Regions from separate parts of the Homo sapiens genome. Here region 2 is linked to region 1. Evidence: fine-mapped expression QTL. A gene starts in region 1. The other region holds a variant in brackets. All regions are shown on one strand. Distances are from middle to middle.

The links.
Region 2: its variant is fine-mapped to the expression of CD4 in whole blood (TOPMed, PIP above 0.99).

What each region holds. Positions count from the first base shown.
Region 1 is chr12:6,784,547-6,792,869 of GRCh38, reverse strand. It overlaps CD4 (CD4 molecule), which reads right to left and starts at 3,342. Exons shown (of 10, transcript NM_000616.5): 1 at 3,208-3,342. RefSeq lists enhancers at 271-320, 3,436-3,485, 3,301-3,858 and a silencer at 5,793-6,087.
Region 2 is chr12:6,815,638-6,823,960 of GRCh38, reverse strand. CD4 (CD4 molecule) reads right to left here. Exons shown (of 10, transcript NM_000616.5): 6 at 7,558-7,905; 7 at 6,631-6,831; 8 at 5,419-5,540; 9 at 5,047-5,114; 10 at 3,162-4,662. The coding sequence ends at 4,632. It overlaps GPR162 (G protein-coupled receptor 162), which reads right to left and starts at 2,140. Exons shown (of 5, transcript NM_019858.2): 1 at 2,061-2,140; 2 at 1-493. The coding sequence starts at 62. RefSeq lists enhancers at 2,157-3,129, 4,100-4,600, 4,601-5,101. The variant A/T (reference allele first, on the strand shown) is at 4,558.

The sequences.
Region 1 (8,323 bases):
GTGTCTGTCTTCCTCTTTGCCTCATATACCAGGCGGCCGTGCTGGCTCTCCCGGGCTCCCCTGGAATGCCCCTTGCCTCTTCTCCTTTTTCAGCTTCCCCTCTCAGGCTGCCACTAAGCTCTAGCTCCTTCCGGTCTGTACACAGTCCTCCTGGCCTTTGGCAGCAATGCAGACCCTGGACAAGCTTTGATCTGTGGGGAGCCTGCCGAGCACGCCTGCAGCCCAGGGTGGATGTGAGGGAGCCGGCTGCAGGGTGGGAGGGACACATGGACAAAGGGAAATGGACAGAGTTCCCCAGAATGCACAGAGCCTCAAGGGAGGAGGGGAGGGAAAGATGTGGGAGAGAGAGACCTGGAGCAGCTTGTTAAAGCAACAGCTATGCACACACAATCCACAATCACACACAAAGCGCAGGGTAGTACAAAAAAAGAGGAAAAGAAGAAATTCTGAGAAGCAAGACAGATGCACAGAGCATAGATCCAAAGTGAGGCAAAGAGAGACTGAGAAAGAGAAGAGACCAAAATGGCAACACACACCACGCACTTTCTCAGAGCCTTGAGGTTCCTGCCGCCCTCACCCCTGGCCCCCAGGGATGGGATGAGGGGCGAGGCTTGGGAGGGTAAGAGGGCCCAGCTCCACCACAGCGAGAGTCTGTGGTCCCACAGGCACTTTTATCTTCTCCCCATAACCCCCAAGCAGCCCACTCAAGCCCAGCCGCGGGATGTGCCCCACCGCGTTCACCCTCTCTACTGCTGACTAGCTTCCTATAAACTTCCTAGAGACTGTGACCCCTCTAAGGAACTCTTGTGGTTGGTGGCTGCAACCTCCGCCATCCTCTTCTTCGCCTCAGACACCCACATCGGGGGAACCGTGCCCACCCTCCTTCCCTCATCCCCTCAAAGGTACAGAACAGAGCTCAAACTCAGAGCCTTGCAAACCCAGACCCCTGCCCACCTACTTCTGATTCCCCACCTTCATCAAAGTTATTTTGAGACAGGGCCTCACTCTCGCCCAGGCTGGAGTGCAGTGGCACAGTCAGGCCTCACTGCAGCCTCCGTCTCCCAGGCTCAAGCAATCCTCCCACCTCAGCTTCCCAAGTAGCTGGAACCACAGGCACACACTACCATGCCCAGCTAACTTTTGTGGGGTTTGTAGAGATGGGGGTTTCACCATGTTGCCCAGGCTGGTCTCAAACTCCCAGGTTCAAGCCATCCTCCTGCCTCGGCCTCTCAAAGGGCTGGGATTACTGGTGTGGGCCACCACGCCCGGCCCATCACAGGTATTTCATTCAACAAACATTTATTGAGTGTCTAAAATGTGCAAGACTGGCCCAGTATGGTGGCTCACGTCTGTAATGCCAGCACTTTGGGAGGCCAAGGCGGGCGGATCATTTGAGGCCAGGAGTTTGAGGCCAGCCTGTCCAACATAGTGAAACCTGGTCTCTACTAAAAATACAAAAAGTAGCCGGGCGTGGTGTTGGGCTCCTGTAATCCCAGCTACTCAAGAGGCTGAGGCAGGAGAATCGCTTGAACCCAGGAGGTGGAGGCTGCAGTGAGTGGAGATCACGTCATTGCACTCCAGCCTGGGCAAGAGAGCGAGACTCCGTCTCAAAAATAATAATAAAAAATAAAACGTGCAAGACAATTGGTCTAGCCAATTGCCCTCAGCACCACCCCGCCATTACGGCCAGGGTCAGAGCCTAGGGCTGCCCCCAAGCTCTGTCTAGCACCAGTGGTGGGAGGAGTTTTTATCTAGATATAGACCTCTCCTATGTAAGTGCTCCCACATTGAAAGAGGGAAATCATCTCCCGAGTGTCTCTAACGCTGTCCTCAGGGGCTCTTTCATCTGACTTTGAGGGCGGCGGCCATTTTGTATCAGCCTACAGCATCTGATACAGCACAAGGAATTATTGGTCAAAATGTGAAGTAGCAGTGACTTCCCCCATCAGGCCCTGCTCTTAGCCTTGCCCCGATAAAAATGTCCACCACAAGAGCAGGGCATTCAGGAAGCACTATCCCACTCAGAGTGAAATCTTTGAATTATTGAGAACAGGGCCTTTCCGTTTTGAGGGATCAGAACGTACCCCAGGAAACCTCTCTCCCAGAAGAAGCCTATGAGGGGAAAGCAGAGGACACTGGGGATAGCACGGCTTCAAGGCCATGAGGTCTCAGGGGCTGGAAAGGTCTGAGGGCGGAAAGGCTGAGATGGCACAGGGCTTCCCTTCAGGAGGGACAGTGAGTCCTCACTCTCCCTCACACCCTGCCAGGCCCAGGAGGGGCTGCACATCCTTCTGTAACTCTCCCGGCCTCATGAGACCCCTACCACCAATTCTTTTCGAATCCGTTTCTTAAATGACATATTTATCTAAAGATATGTATCTGCAACTTTTAGGGCAATTCATACGCAAAAGCTCAGTTTCAACACTTTCTGAGAATTTTAGCTTTCCTATTTCATGAATCATTTTAAAGCTAACTAGAGTAGAAGTGCCTTTAGACATTGTTCAAAAATCTTAAAAGAGCAAAGAAGCAGACAAAAATTTAAAAATACACACAGAAACACAAAAGGTAGTTAAAAGAGACTATTACATAGATCATGCGACTTATGAAATGCTGCAAGTATGATATTTGGTGTCAATTTTTGGAGATTGTCCCGTTAAGGAAAATTGGTTTTGCAAGAATTTTCTCTAGACTAGATTCCACTTCTTTTGCTCTTTTTCTTGTTTTTATGTTTTTCCTCATCATTTCTTTTTTATAGGTTTCCTCCCACCTTATATTTATTTATTCTTTCTAATTTTTTCCCTCCCCTTCTTCACTCTTTTTCTCCTCTTTTCCCCTCTTCCAGTCTTCTCCCCTCAACTGCCCACGACTAGTTGCCTTCCACGCCTTTCCCAGCCTGGGATAGTCTCCAGTCTTCACTCCCTCTCTGATCTTGCTATTTAGGTCACTACTCCTCTAAGGAGCACCCATTGCTCTGGACACTGAGCTGTGCACGCTGGGGCTGCAGAGAGGAGTCTAGCACAGTCTCTGACCTCTGGAAGCTCACAGTTCCAGTGGGAAATCGCTGCTCATGACCAGTTCCAAGAGAAATGCAAGAGAAGGTGGCCAGAGCTGTGGGCAGACAACTGGGCAGAGCACATTCCTGTGCATCTGCCCCACGTTCCCCTCCCTCTCAGCTCCGGGGAAGGAAGCCGAGTCTGACCACCTTACCTCTGGGCTTGCGTCTTTCTTGCCCGCTGCTTCTCAAACAGGCGTATCTGTGTGAGGACTTGGAGCTCTGCAACCAGGAGCCCAGTGGGGAGGGTGCTTTGTTCCTTCTGCAGAGTCGTGCTTAAATGAAGAGAGACAGGAAGCCCGATGGCAAGGCTCCTCCACACCCTAGGCCTGGGCCGGCCCCAAACGTCACCAGCTGGAGCTGGGTTCCCCACCCCCCAGGCTCTCAGGGAACATGTCAAAGTGAAAATGCCAAAGTCAAGGGAAAAAGTTAAGCAGAATCAGGCTTAAATCAGGAGTCAAACTGTCACTGCCACTGTTAAGCGGCAAGAAAAAGATGGCAAGAAAGATTCCATTAGTGGTAGCGCCATGTCTGACCAGGCTGTGGGGAAAGAAGTGGGAGGCAGTTGGGGGCATATGGGAACAGCAGTGGTAAGCCCACAAACAGCTCCTTGCTCTGGGGCCCTGAGGGCATGTGTCCAGTGGGTGCCCCAGGGGTATCTGTGGAGGCTTTATAGGTGGCCCAGTGTGGAAGAGAGGGCGTGGGCTGAGCAGAGAATATCTGAGACACCAGGAGTGACTGTTAACCAGGCTCTGTTCCTCTAGGCGTCTCTGGCCAGGCCTCAGGTGCTTTCCTCTAGCCCGAATCTACCATGAACTCTCTATGTGAGTATCCGTCTGCCCATTGGACATCTCCACTGGGAAGCTCACCGGACATAGCAAACTCAACACACATCCCCAACTATGCATACCACCTGCATACTACCACCCTCCAAACCTGCTTCTCCAGGCTTCTCACTCAGTGAGGGGCTCACCATCCACCAACTTGCCCAAGCAAAATAAATTGGGTGTAATCTTTGACACCCCCTTCACCCAACTTCTCCCACGTATTTATTTACCAGTTCCTGTGGATGTTACCTTCTAAATGGCTCCAAAATCTACCCAAGTCACTCTGCACTACCACTACTGCCACCATGCCAATCCAAGATGCCAATATCATCCCTTGCTCGGACAACAGCTCCTGCCTCCTCACTGGTCGCCATTCTCCATACCACAGCCCAAGTGATCATTTAAAGATGCACATGTGAGTGTGCGTTTTCCAGTCTGAAAAAAGTGGGGCTGGGAGTGGTGGCTCATGCCTATAATCCCAGCATTTTAGGAGGCCGAGGTGGGGGGATCGCTTGAGCCCAGGAAGTTGAGGCTGCAGTGAACCGTGATTGCACCACTGCACTCTAGCCTGAGTGACAGAGTGAGAACCTGTCTTGAAAAGAAGAAAAGAAAAGAAAAGAAAAGAAAACTCTAGTTCAGCTTGCGACTCCAACAATTAACACAAGTACCCCTATTTGACAGCATTGTACTTCATCTGTAGCATATAGTACTGTGTGCTACTTCTCATTTCATGACACACCGTACTCAAGGGTTGAGATTTAATAAAATTAGTATTTACTGCTTCATTAAAGGCATTCTATATATATATATATATATATTTTTTTTTTTTTTTTTTTTTGAGAGGGAGTCTCACTCTGTTGCCCAGGCTAGAGTGCAGTGGCGTGATCTTGGCTCACTGCAACCTCTGCCTCCCGGGTTCAAGCAATTCTCCTGCCTCAGCCTCCCAAGTAGCTGGGGCTACAGGCATGCGCCACAATGCCCAGCTAATTTTTGTATCTTTAGTAGAGATGGGGTTTCACCATGTTGCCCAGGATGGTCTTGATCTCTCTTTTTTTTTTTTTTTTTTTTGAGACAGAGTCTTGCTTTGTCATCCAGGCTGAAGTGCAGCAGCATGATTTCGGCTTACTACAACCTCCGCCTCCTGGATTCAAGCCATTCTCCTGCCTCAGCCTCCCGAGTAGCTGGGATTACAGGCACCCGCCAACATGCCTGGCTAATTTTTGTATTTTTGTAGAGACAGGGTTTCACTCGTTGGCCAGGCTGGTCTTGAACTCCTGACCTCAGGTGATCCTGATCTGCCCGCTTCGGCCTCCCAAAGTGCTGGGATTACAGGCACGAGCCACTGCGCCCGGCCTCATTAAGGGCATTCTTAAGTAAAAGTGGCATTAATTTTTTTTCTTTTTTTACTGTAAGTACCTGGCAGTGAAGAATGCAATGACTATCATATGGTTTGGCACCACTGCCTTCATTTATGCTAAGGCAGCAGTTTTATCCAGATTGTTTTTGCAACATTATTGCAATGTCAACATAGTGACAAAGGAAAATAACATCCTGTATTTTTTTATGAAAATAGCTTGACCTTGAAGATCCCCTGAAAGGGTCTCAGGGACTCCCAAGGGTCTGCAGGCCACACTTCACTCTGAGAACCACTGATCTAGGTAATTTTTATTCATTCTTCAGATCTCAGCTATCGCTTTAGCTGTCCCCAAAGTCTATTTTCTCCTTCTTGGTAATAGAACCCTCAATTTTTAGCTGAGCTCTTAGCTACCCAGATTTAAAATATACTTCCCAGCCTCCCTCACAGCTGGATGTGTCCAAGTGACTCAATTTTGGTTAATAGATAGAAGTGAAAGTATTAGGTGCAACCTCAGAGTTGCTCCTCAAAGTGGGGAAAATGTATCCTCCTCAGGCCTTCTTCCTTCAGACTAGAAAGCAAACACCCTCCCTATTGTTCACAGCCAGTCTGCTTTTCTCATTTACATTACCTGGCAGGCTCTGGTAGGCATTGATGTTTTGAGCCCTGCTCCATTCATTCATGTACGTAGTTAAGCGTGTACCAGCCCAAGGCACTCTGCTAGGTAGCTGGGGATGTGATGTTGAAGAAGACAGATATGGTCACCACTCCAGCTTATGACATAGACACTAAACAACGAACAACTTCATTACAATTCGACAAGCGCTACAAAGGAAAAAGCACAAGGTGCTGGGAGATCTTATCACAAAAGAACCTTCTTTCAACTGGGAGAATTGTCTATCGGTAAGCACTGGGTTCTGCTACAAGCAAAAGAAAACCCAAAATAATAGAGGCTTCAACAAGATTGAAGTTATTTTTCACATGTAGGAAGTGTGGAGGTGGGTGGTGCAGAAGAGAGGGAGCAGCACGCCGTCCTCCAGGGCCAAGATTGGGGCTGTTTATATTTTGTTGCTCTACCATTCTCCTGCACAGGACTTCCTCCCCAGAGTCTCAGAGGATACTCAGGTTCCTCAGTTGAAATCAGTTTTCCTTGTGATAAGATCTCCCAGTCCCCTGTGCTTCTCCCTTCGTAGCAATTTTCCAGTTGCAATGAAGTTATTTGCTGCTTAGTGTCTAGCTCACAGGCCAGAGCGGTGACCGTGTCTGTCTTAGTTAGCACTATGTTCCCAGCACCCTCACAGATGCCTTGGCCCTGGAAGACCCTTAATGCTTGTTTAATATTTTCCTAATATATTAAATTTTATTGATATTAAATTTATTGCGGTAAAATACACGCAACATAAGATTTTCCATTTTAAGCTTTTTTTTTTTTTTTTTCCAAGACGGAGTCTTACTCTGTCCCCCAGGCTGGAGTGCAGTGGCACAATCTAGGTTCACTGCAACCTCCACCTCCTGGGTTCAAGCGATTCTCCAGCCTCAGCCTCCCGAGTAGCTGGGACTACAGGTGCCCGCCACCACGCCTGGCTAATTTTTGTATTTTTAGTAAAGACGGGGTTTCACCATGTTGGCCAGGCTGGTCTCGAATTCCTGACCTCAAGTGATCTGCTCACCTTGGCCTCCCAAAGTGTTGGGATTACAGGTGTGAGTCACCACACCCGGCCATTTTAGGCATTTTTTAATGTACTGCTCTGTGGGACTGAGTACACTCACATGGTTGTGTAACCATCTAGAAATTTTTCATCTTCCCCAAATGAAACTCTGTACCCATTAAATACTGACTCCTCATTCTAACTCCCTGCAACTCCTGGCTATTGAATAATATTTTTTTTTCTTTTTTCTTTTCTTTTTTTTTTGGAAACAGAGTCTTGCTCTGTCGCCGAGGCTCGAGTGCAGTGGTGTGATCTCGGCTCACTGCAACCTCCGCCTCCCAGGTTCAAGCGAATCTCCTGCCTCAGACTCCCGAGTATCTGGGATTACAGGCGTGCGCCACCAAGCCTGGCTAATTTTTGTATTTTTAGTACAGACAGGGTTTCACCATGTTGGCCAGGCTGGTCTCGAACTCCTGACCTCAAGTGATTCTCCTGCCTCTGCCTCCCAAAGTGCTGGGATTATAGGCGTGAGCCACTGCACCAGGCCAAATAATTTTTGAATGGATAAATAGAGAAGTATGGACAAGAGCAGGAGAGCAGGGCTACAAATGTAAATGCTTACAGGAGCCCCCTAGGTAGTGCAAATGAGAAAGGTACACTGGTGGTGACCAAAAGGGAAGGGTAGGGACTGGGGGAAACCAGAGAGTACTTGCCTCAGCTAGTTAAGGGCAGCCATTCCCTGCATAGCTGTCTGAGTTGACCGTAGAGGCTATACTGGCATGTGAGCCTAGAGTTGCCTGCTCTGCCAAAATTTCTAGAGAAGGTGAAAACCAGACATTTATGTAATACCTCCTGATTTTAATATTGGTAACAAATTTTTTCAACTTGTCGTGACACTGGGTAGAGCAAACAGAGCATTCCAAGGGCTGGCTCTAGCTTTGGGCCCACCGGTTTGCAGATTCCAGACCCGATGGACGGTGTGAGAACTTGCAGCTCTGTGAGTCTGTGGCCTGGAAGTCAACGGTCCTGAGAACCTGGCTCTCTCTCTGGGGTTTCCAAACAGGAAAAGAAAAAAGGAAGAGAGAGGGTGAGTTTATAGTAAACATTTGGCATTGTTGTGTGCTTTATGTGGTTGTATCTTTTATTTAATCCTCATGAGAGTGATAAGACATAGGTATTATTGTCCAGGCCATACAGATGAGGAAACTGAGGCTTGAAGAGTTTTTTGTTTTCTTAGACAAGGTCTCGTTCTGTCACCCAGGCTGCAGTGCAGTGGCACGGTCACAGCTCACTGCAGCCTCAACCTCCAGGGCTCAATCTATCCTCCCGCCTTAGCCTCTCAAGTAGCTGGAACTACAGGCATGTGCCACTGTACCCAGCTAAATTTTTTTTTCCCCTAGAGATGGGGTTTTGCTATGCTTCCCAGGCTGATCTCAAACTC
Region 2 (8,323 bases), 31 kb before region 1:
AGCCAGGACAATGCGTTGGAGCGCAGGGAGGCCTCCTCTGCCCCCGCCCCGCCCCGAGCCATCCTATCCTCAGCCCCCCACCCCCTTGAGCTCTGTGGGGGTGGGGGCTAGGTCTCACCCAGGAGCCCCACTCACAAACACTCCCATGATCCCCACAATCCTCGCCCTGTCAGCAGGCAGGCTGCCCCCAGGCTCACCCCAGTGCTCAGCATTGCATGATGGACCCAGCTGAGGGCAGATGTAGAGGGCAGGGGAGGAGACTGAGGGTCAGCAGAGGCAATCCTCAGCTTTCATACTGGGCGGGGCCTTCCTTAAGCATCCCTGCAATTGATGGGGCAGGCAAGCTGGCTACTTTCCCAACTATGAGGCTGGCTGGGGGGTTCTGGTCCCCATGCTGGGACTTCCAGGTCTCTTTTGCCTCTGGTTCTTGACCAGTCAGGAATCTTCTGGATGCCCCAGGGATTTGGGGGTGGGGCTCAGCCCCCTGGACAGGCTGCAAGGGAAAGATGAGATGTGGGAGGGAGAGGGCAAAGGTAGGGCCTGGGCTGGTCTCCAATCAGCCTCCTGTGCCCCCTTTCTTGAAACTATAGGCATGACTGATTACTAAGGCCCTGAGGGTCATTCAGAACATTCCTTTGCCTTAACTCTGACAGCTAAACACCCCACACAGATGAGAGCCGCACTCTTCCAGACCTCTAGGGAAGAAGGTATTCCCACCTCCCTGTCTCCTTTAGCCCTTCCTCCTCCCGCTGGAACTCCCAGGTTCCTTCTTAGAACATCCCCTGCTCAGCACTACTCCACCCCTATCTTCAAGTCCCTAAATGTCTCTTCAGAACTACTGATGGGAGACACAAGACTGGTTTCCTCTTGAGGGTTCACAGTGAACTGGGATATGGCATCACAGCCTTCCTCCCCTACCTGCCGGTCTCCTGGATGCAGGGGTCTTGGTGCTTAGCCCCTACTTCCCCAAACCTGGGTGATCACCCTCCAGCTACCCATATCTGGGAAAATGGGAGAAAGGAGTCTGGGACCGAAGGGGGTGCTAGGGAACCTGAAGGCGGGGAAACCGCTGACATCAGAAGCATCCAGAAATGGAAAGAGGGGGAACTAGGGAGAAGGAGGAGAGTTTGAGCAGAAGAGAAAGAGGGGGCAAAGTGGTAGTATCTGAAAATAGCAGGAAAAGCTCAAACCCCCTGGAGAGGAGGCTTTGGAGGGAGGAGGGACTGGAGGAGGGAGGGAGGGAGGGAGCAGGGAATAGGAGGCTGAGAAGAAAAGCCAAATGTTCAATAAGGTGCTGACTCCCCGTGGGGAGACCTTGACTCTTCCTCCCTGGCCCAGAGCCTCAGTTTCCCTCTCATGGGAGGAAGGATGGTCCCAGTTTTAGTGCGTGATGCTGAGCTTCAGTGAGCCCTGGGAAGGGGGGTAAGGGAATCGGGTGAAACCCTGAACAGAGTGGGGCTGTAAGGAAGCACATAATGGCTTTAGGGTAAGTGGGGTAAAAATGGGGCACAGCAGTGAAAGGGTCTGTTTCCCATGGAAGCAGCTCAGACCCTTGCTTTCCCCAAGAGGTCCTGGTCCACCCCCACCCTTGGCTTCCCTCCGGAGCCCAGTACACCCTAGTTGCCATGGCAATGGCCAGCCAGAGGGAGGTGGAGGGACTTGGCCAAGAGCAGCCCCCAGTGTCCTCTCCTACAGCCCTGGACCCCTTCCCACCCACCTCCACCCAGGCCCAGCTGGTGGGCTCAGGATGAAAGAGATAGGGAGTCAGAGAGGGAAGGAGGCAGGAAAGATGTGAAGGACAGAGAGAGGGAGGTGAAGGACAGGGAGAGATCAGAGGAAGGTGGGAAGGGGGATCTGGGAGGTTCCCTGGCCGACGGGGTCCCTCGCCCTTTGGGGTGAAGGGGTAAGGTCAGGCGGCTCCTCCCTCCTGTCCCCCTCCAGGTTCTCCAGGGCAGAAACAGCAGGTGGCTGGGGAGGAGGGGCCGGCCTAGGGGAGAGGAGGCAGCTTGAGGGGGAAAGGGAGGCAACACAGGGGACGGGGCAGGCAGGGGTCGTCTTACCTCTCTCCGGCTGCGCCCAGCACTGCCATGGAGACCGCACTCCCGACGCGGCTCTCTCGGGCTCCCGCTGCCTGCCGGCTCCAGCTCGCCCGCCCTCCTCCCTCCTTCCCTCTCTCCCTCCCTCCCTTCCCCCGGGCCTCCCTCCTCCCCCTCAGTCCCGGCCTCCCAGGCTCAGCCCACGGCTCACTCGGTCTCTGCCCCTCTCACTCTCCAGGACCCTCTCTCCCGGGGTCGTCCTGCCAGTGAGCCCAGGCCAGAGGGAAGGCAGGACAGCTTTGTGGGGGGCGGGGGGGGGCGGGAAACGAGTGCAGGGTGGGGAACTGGACGGTGGTGACTCGGGGAGGAGGGGCAAGGAAGGCGCTGAGAGGGAGGGCGGTGAGGAGGATGGCTGGGAACCGGCTTCATTGGTGAAATGGTTCATGTCCTGCCCCCACCCCTTCCCGTTTTCAACACGAACACAAGCTCCAAGAGGCAGCTGGTGTTGTTGGGGACTGAGGAGCTAGCTGTTCGGGGAGGAGGAAGCGTGTGTCACTGTGTGTATCTGTGTGAGGGCTGGGCCTTGGGTTTGGGAGTGAGGGGGCTTGTGGTGCACACTGGGGCTGCTTGTGGAGTTGGGGGTGGTTGTGCACAAGCTAAAAGGATGTGGGCGCATGCATGCACACAGACACACACACTCTGCCTCCTCCTCCTGGAACACAAACACATATGTTGGGGATACAATTTGCACACACATGTTACAGTTTCTCATAGTCCTTTTTCTCTGCCACACACATACACCAGGAGAGCTCACACAACCCTGAGTCTCTCCCCCACGGTATATCACACACATGTAATTACAGAGTCTCAGCCTCACACACACACAGGCCCACACAGAGCCCTGTGGGTTGTGGAGGTGGGTAGCCAGCCTCCACAGAATTTTTCCCTCTCCAGGGAAACTTCATCTCCTTCCTGGGGCACGCCCAGCAACCTCTCCTCTGGGTCCGACCCCAAAGACCAGAAGATTCCTGGTCCCCAGAGAAGGGGTCTCTCTCTCTCTCTCTCTCTCACACACACACACACACACACACACACACACACACACACACGAAGAGCATCTTTATAGTAAGTTTATTGTATTTTTATTTCAGCTCAGGGGAGCAGGGGTGGAGAGTGGGCACAAATGCAAAGTAAGCAAATGGGGAGCCCCAGCAGCAATAGGGGGGTCTTCCTGGAAGAGGCAGGCTTTAAAGACAGGAGGAGAAGGAAATAGGGAAAAGGAGTTGGGACTGAGGGAAGTGGTGAGGAAGGGTAGGAAGAGAGGGGATCCTGAGAGAAGTGGATCAAGAAGATTTGTAACCCTGATTTCCCTGTGTCCTGAATGGTCTGGAGGAGGGTAAGGGAGGGTGTGGGGCAGGCGCAGAGCCTGGCACAATCACCTTTGAGGTCCCTTAGAGGGTTCCCTCTCAGGCTAGCTACCCCCTCTCCCAGCAAAGCTCGCTTCCAGGAGGTTCTGCACAGGGTCAGTGACTGGTCACTGGGCATTCTCTCCTGCAGTGCCTGTGCTCCCAGCTTGCGCTCTGATTAGAAGAGCCAAAGGCTTTGTCCTCTGGTAACAGATTCTGCCACCAGCGGGGGATGAAGGAGGGATTTTAGACAGGGAGGCCTTCATCCCTGCTCGTAAATTCTCTGAGATGGACCCTTCCCATGGGTGCTGTGCTTCTGTGAACCCAAAAGTACACATTGAGTACCCACCACTAGCCACTGGTGAGAGCCGTGTGGCATTTGTCCCTGCATTCAAGAGGCAGCAGTGGAACTTGGGACAAGGGACCTGGGTTAGTCCCGACTCCAGCACTTGCTAGTCCGGCACTTGGTAATCAATCATCTAGCCTCTCTGAGCTCTGGTTCTGGTCTATAAACTGGAGATGATCATCTTAGTTCTGTCACTGCCAGCCTTGTAGGATTTTTCTAAGTCTCAAATAGACAGAGGATGTGAGACATCCCTTGAGGCCGTGTACATGGGGCTGTGTCCAGAGGGGCTGTTTGTGCAAGGTCAGGATGTGAGTCTGTGGTCCCACCCACATAGGGTGAGAAGCGGGCAGCATGGGGCAGGAGGTACTGGCTGCCAGAAACCTCTGGATCTGCATCCATCCTTGACTGGCTTGGCTGTGTGATTTTGTGCAAGTTCCTGCCCTCTGTGGTCCCAGGGTCCTGTCTTGTAAAAGAACAGTCCCATGCTCCATGCTTCCAGACACCCAGCCTCACCCTCCATGCCAGCCAGGGCTGGCCCTGAACACTCCCCTGGGATCCAAATGAGCAGTGGGGAGAGGGTCAGAGAGAAATAATGAGAGAAGGGCTAGGCTTGAAGGAAAAGGAAATGGCGTGGAGGACGGTGTGATTAAGCCTCTGGAAACTAGAGAGCAACACTCAACCAGTGAAGCCGGGGCCTAACCCAGGAGAAACAATGGCAAATTGTAGAGGAGGCGAACAGGAGGCCAGAGGCTGGGGATCTGCTACATTC[A/T]TCTGGTCCGCAGGCAGGAAACGCGGGGCAGACACCTGGGGAGGCTGCAAGTGGGATCTGCCTGGCCTCGTGCCTCAAATGGGGCTACATGTCTTCTGAAACCGGCTGCAGGAACAAAGAAGAAGGGGAGCAGGTCTGTCCCCACTGCAACCCCTTTGCGTTCTAGCACCTCCAATGGCCTTTCCAGCGCAGCACAGCTCCAGTGGCTTTCCAGCAGGGCCTTTCCTGGCCTGCTGCTCCTTCAGCTCCATCCTCCCACTTCTGCCTCCTTCTAGCTCCTGGCCATCTTTTCCCACCCCTCTATCCTCTCCACCACACCCCTTTAGCCCCCATCTCCTCACCTCCACCCCTCCCAGCTCTTCCTCCTCAACTCCTTCCTCCTCTCCATCCTCCCTTCCTGCCCCCCTTTGCTCCCCTTCCTCCCCCTCCTCTCTAACTCCCTCCCCCTCCCCCTTTCCCCTCTCTCAACCCCTCCTCCCAGATCCTTACTGAGGACACTGGCAGGTCTTCTTCTCACTGAGGAGTCTCTTGATCTGAGACATCCGCTCTGCTTGGCGCTGTCCAGGGACAAGAAAGGGAGTCACGAGGGTCCCAGGCCTCCAGAAGGGAGGTGCCCCTTGGTGGGGGGAGTGGGGGAAGCTGCGACAGGAGAAGCAGTTACATGGCCCAGGCCATCTATCCTGGAATTAACTCTCTGCTCCTTCCTGTCTCTCCCTTGAGTGGGATCTGGGACAGGGCAGCAAGGGAACTTACGAGTGGGCAGAGGGAGCTGGGCCAAAATCAGTTCCCATATACAGGATCTCCTGGTAGAGGACTCAGGGGTTTGAGGGCCTTGTGGGGACCAGGTGTGGGGTTACTCACCCTTCGGTGCCGGCACCTGACACAGAAGAAGATGCCTAGCCCAATGAAAAGCAGGAGGCCGGCGACGCCCCCCAGCACAATCAGGGCCATTGGCTGCACCGGGGTGGACCATGTGGGCAGAACTGCAAGGGAGAGAAATGTGCTCAATGCACCGCCCTCCTCCACGGGCCAGGGGACTGAGGACTGCCCTGCAATCCCTCCTGGCCAGTCTCTGGTTTGACCCTGGGGTTGGGGGAGAGGGGAGGGGTGCCTGGGGGCTCTCAAAGGCCGCCAGTGCTGGGGAATCGGTTTTATGTTTGGGCATATCCATATCCAGGGCACTCTGGAGAGAGAGAAGCTGTGGTCTGGCTCCTGGGCTGTGTGTGTGAGTGCATGTGTGTGTGCATGTGTGAGTGTGTGCATGTGTGTGCGTGTGTGAATGGTGTGAATGTGTGTGTGTGCGCGCGTGTGCGCGTGTGAGTCCATGTGTGAATGTGTGTGCGTGTGTGCATGTGTGTGAATGTGTGCCTGTGTGCGTGTATGAATGTGTGTGCGTGACTGCATGCATGTGCGCGCGCGTGTGTGCACATGTGTGAATAATGCGTGTGCGGATGTGAGTGTATAAGTGTGTGAGTGTACGTGTACGACAGTGTGTGGGTGAGAGTATGTGCGTGAATGTGTAAGTGTGTGTGTGCATGCATGTGTGAGTACATGTGTGTGTATGAGTGTGTGACAGTGTGTGAGTGCATGGGTGTGAGTACATGGGGTGAGAGTGTGGGTGTGAGTGTGGATGTGTGTGTAGTGTGTGTATGAGTGTGTGCGAGTGTGTGAGTGATGTGTGTGCGTGTGTGAGAGTGTATGGGAGTGTGTGCATGTGTGTGAGAGTGTATGTGTGTGAGTGTGTGTGTAAGTGCGTCTGGATTTGGAGAAAAGCCAGGAGCCAGGGAGGGGGGCTCTCGGTCAGGTGGACCCCATCCCTAGGCTGTAGACCTGAGGGAGTGGGAACTTGTAGAATTACAACTGGCAGCCTAGAGCCCAGGACCACAACCCACCTCACTTCATCACTTCTATGCCTCCTTTTGGGGCCTCCAAAGCACCCTGGGACCACAGAGGACACCATACCCATAACCCCCCAACTCAGGCATTGGGAGGCCGGGACTCTGGGTGGTCTCTGCCAACCACAGGAAGGTCCCGCAGCCCAGGAGGCAGAGGCCTTGGAACCTGGGTCCTTACCCTTGATGTTGGATTCCAGCAGGACCTGTCCCGAGTCACTCAGCAGACACTGCCACATCCCCGCCTCAGGGTTCAGCACCCACACCGCCTTCTCCCGCTTCGAGACCTTTGCCTCCTTGTTCTCCAGTTTCAAACTCAGCATCAGCTTAGGGGAGGTGGGTCCCCACACCTCACAGGTCAAATTTTTCTGGAGCTGAGTGGCTGCAGAGGAACGAGAGGCTGAGATCAAAGGCCTGAGATTCAGTAGAACAATTAAAATGATACTCTATATGGGTGACCTTCTTTTAGCCTTTTAGAGCAGGTTTTCATGCAGTCCTACGAGGAAAAACAGCGTTTGGGGTCCAGTGGTATTGGATTTGAATCCCAGCTCCACTGCTTAGCAGCTGTGTGTCTCTGGGCAAGTGACTTAACAACCTGCACCCAGATAGTACTAAAGGCAGGCATACATGTAAAGTGTTTGGATGGGGCCCGACACGTGCTGAGCATCAAGTGTTAGCCATTACTATTTGCAGAGTCGTTATGATGATAAGGAGATAAGGAAGCCAGAAACTCAATTTGGAGCTTGACATTATCATCATTACTATCACACAGAGAGCAGATTTCATTATCCTTATTAGACAGGTCAGGAAGCAGGCCTGCAGTGGGAGGGGGCTTAGCCAGGGTCACAGAGGGTTGGTTATAGGAAGAACTGGAACCCTGGTTCTTAGCCCAAGTGCTTTGGGGATCTTCAGTGAAGCCAGCCCCAGGCTGGCTCATGGATGTCTCAGTTCAAAACCAGCCCCAAACCCAGAGGGCCCTCCCTCACTTCATCCAGGTGACCAGGGCCTAGGCATCCCCTCTTGGGGCCTGGCTTGCCTCAGAGGGAGCCCTGGGCCAGGCCCCTCCAACTCCTTCCCCTGCCCACCCCTCCCTGGCCTGGCCCCTCACCTCTCATCACCACCAGGTTCACTTCCTGATGCAACTTTCCTGTTTTCGCTTCAAGGGCCAGGGTGAGGTTTCCAGAGCCAGCATACTGAGGCAAGGCCTGGGGCAGGGTGAGGTGGAGCGGGAGCTTCTTGCCCATCTGGAGCTTAGGGTCCTGGGTAACCCGTTTTACAGACACTTCCTTGTTCTTCAGGTCAAAGGTGATCCAAGACTTGGAGGAGGAAGCCCTCTCCGCCTGCCACCACAGCTCGCCACTGCCCGTCAGCTTTTCAACTGTAAAGGCGAGTGGGAAGGAGAACTCCACCTGTTCCCCCTCTTTCTTATAGACTATGCTGGAGGCCTTCTGGAAAGCTGGAGGTGGGAAGGGAGAGACCCTGGGTGAGGAGATAGGAAGATGAGGGTGCACGAGTGGGGTTGGCATGTGGAGGCAGCAGGGAGATGGAAGGGGACCCGACGAGTCCAGACACCCACCTTGTCACTTCAGATACTTCAGTTCCTTCCTACCTCTCCAGCCTTCTCTCCCTTCTTCCACCCAGCATTTTCCTACAGCAGGCCACCTCCCTCCTCCCGGAAGCCATCACAGAGCAGCCCAGCCACAGGGGATCCTTGCTGTCCTTAGGATTCCTGGACCACAGAAGCCATTTGGCCTCCACTCCTTAGAGGCGTATTCATCACCCTTCACAAAATAACAGCGAACACTTAACTAGGGCTTACTCTGTGCCAGGCACCATTTTCAGTGCCTTACGTATATCAGTCCTCAACTTAATAC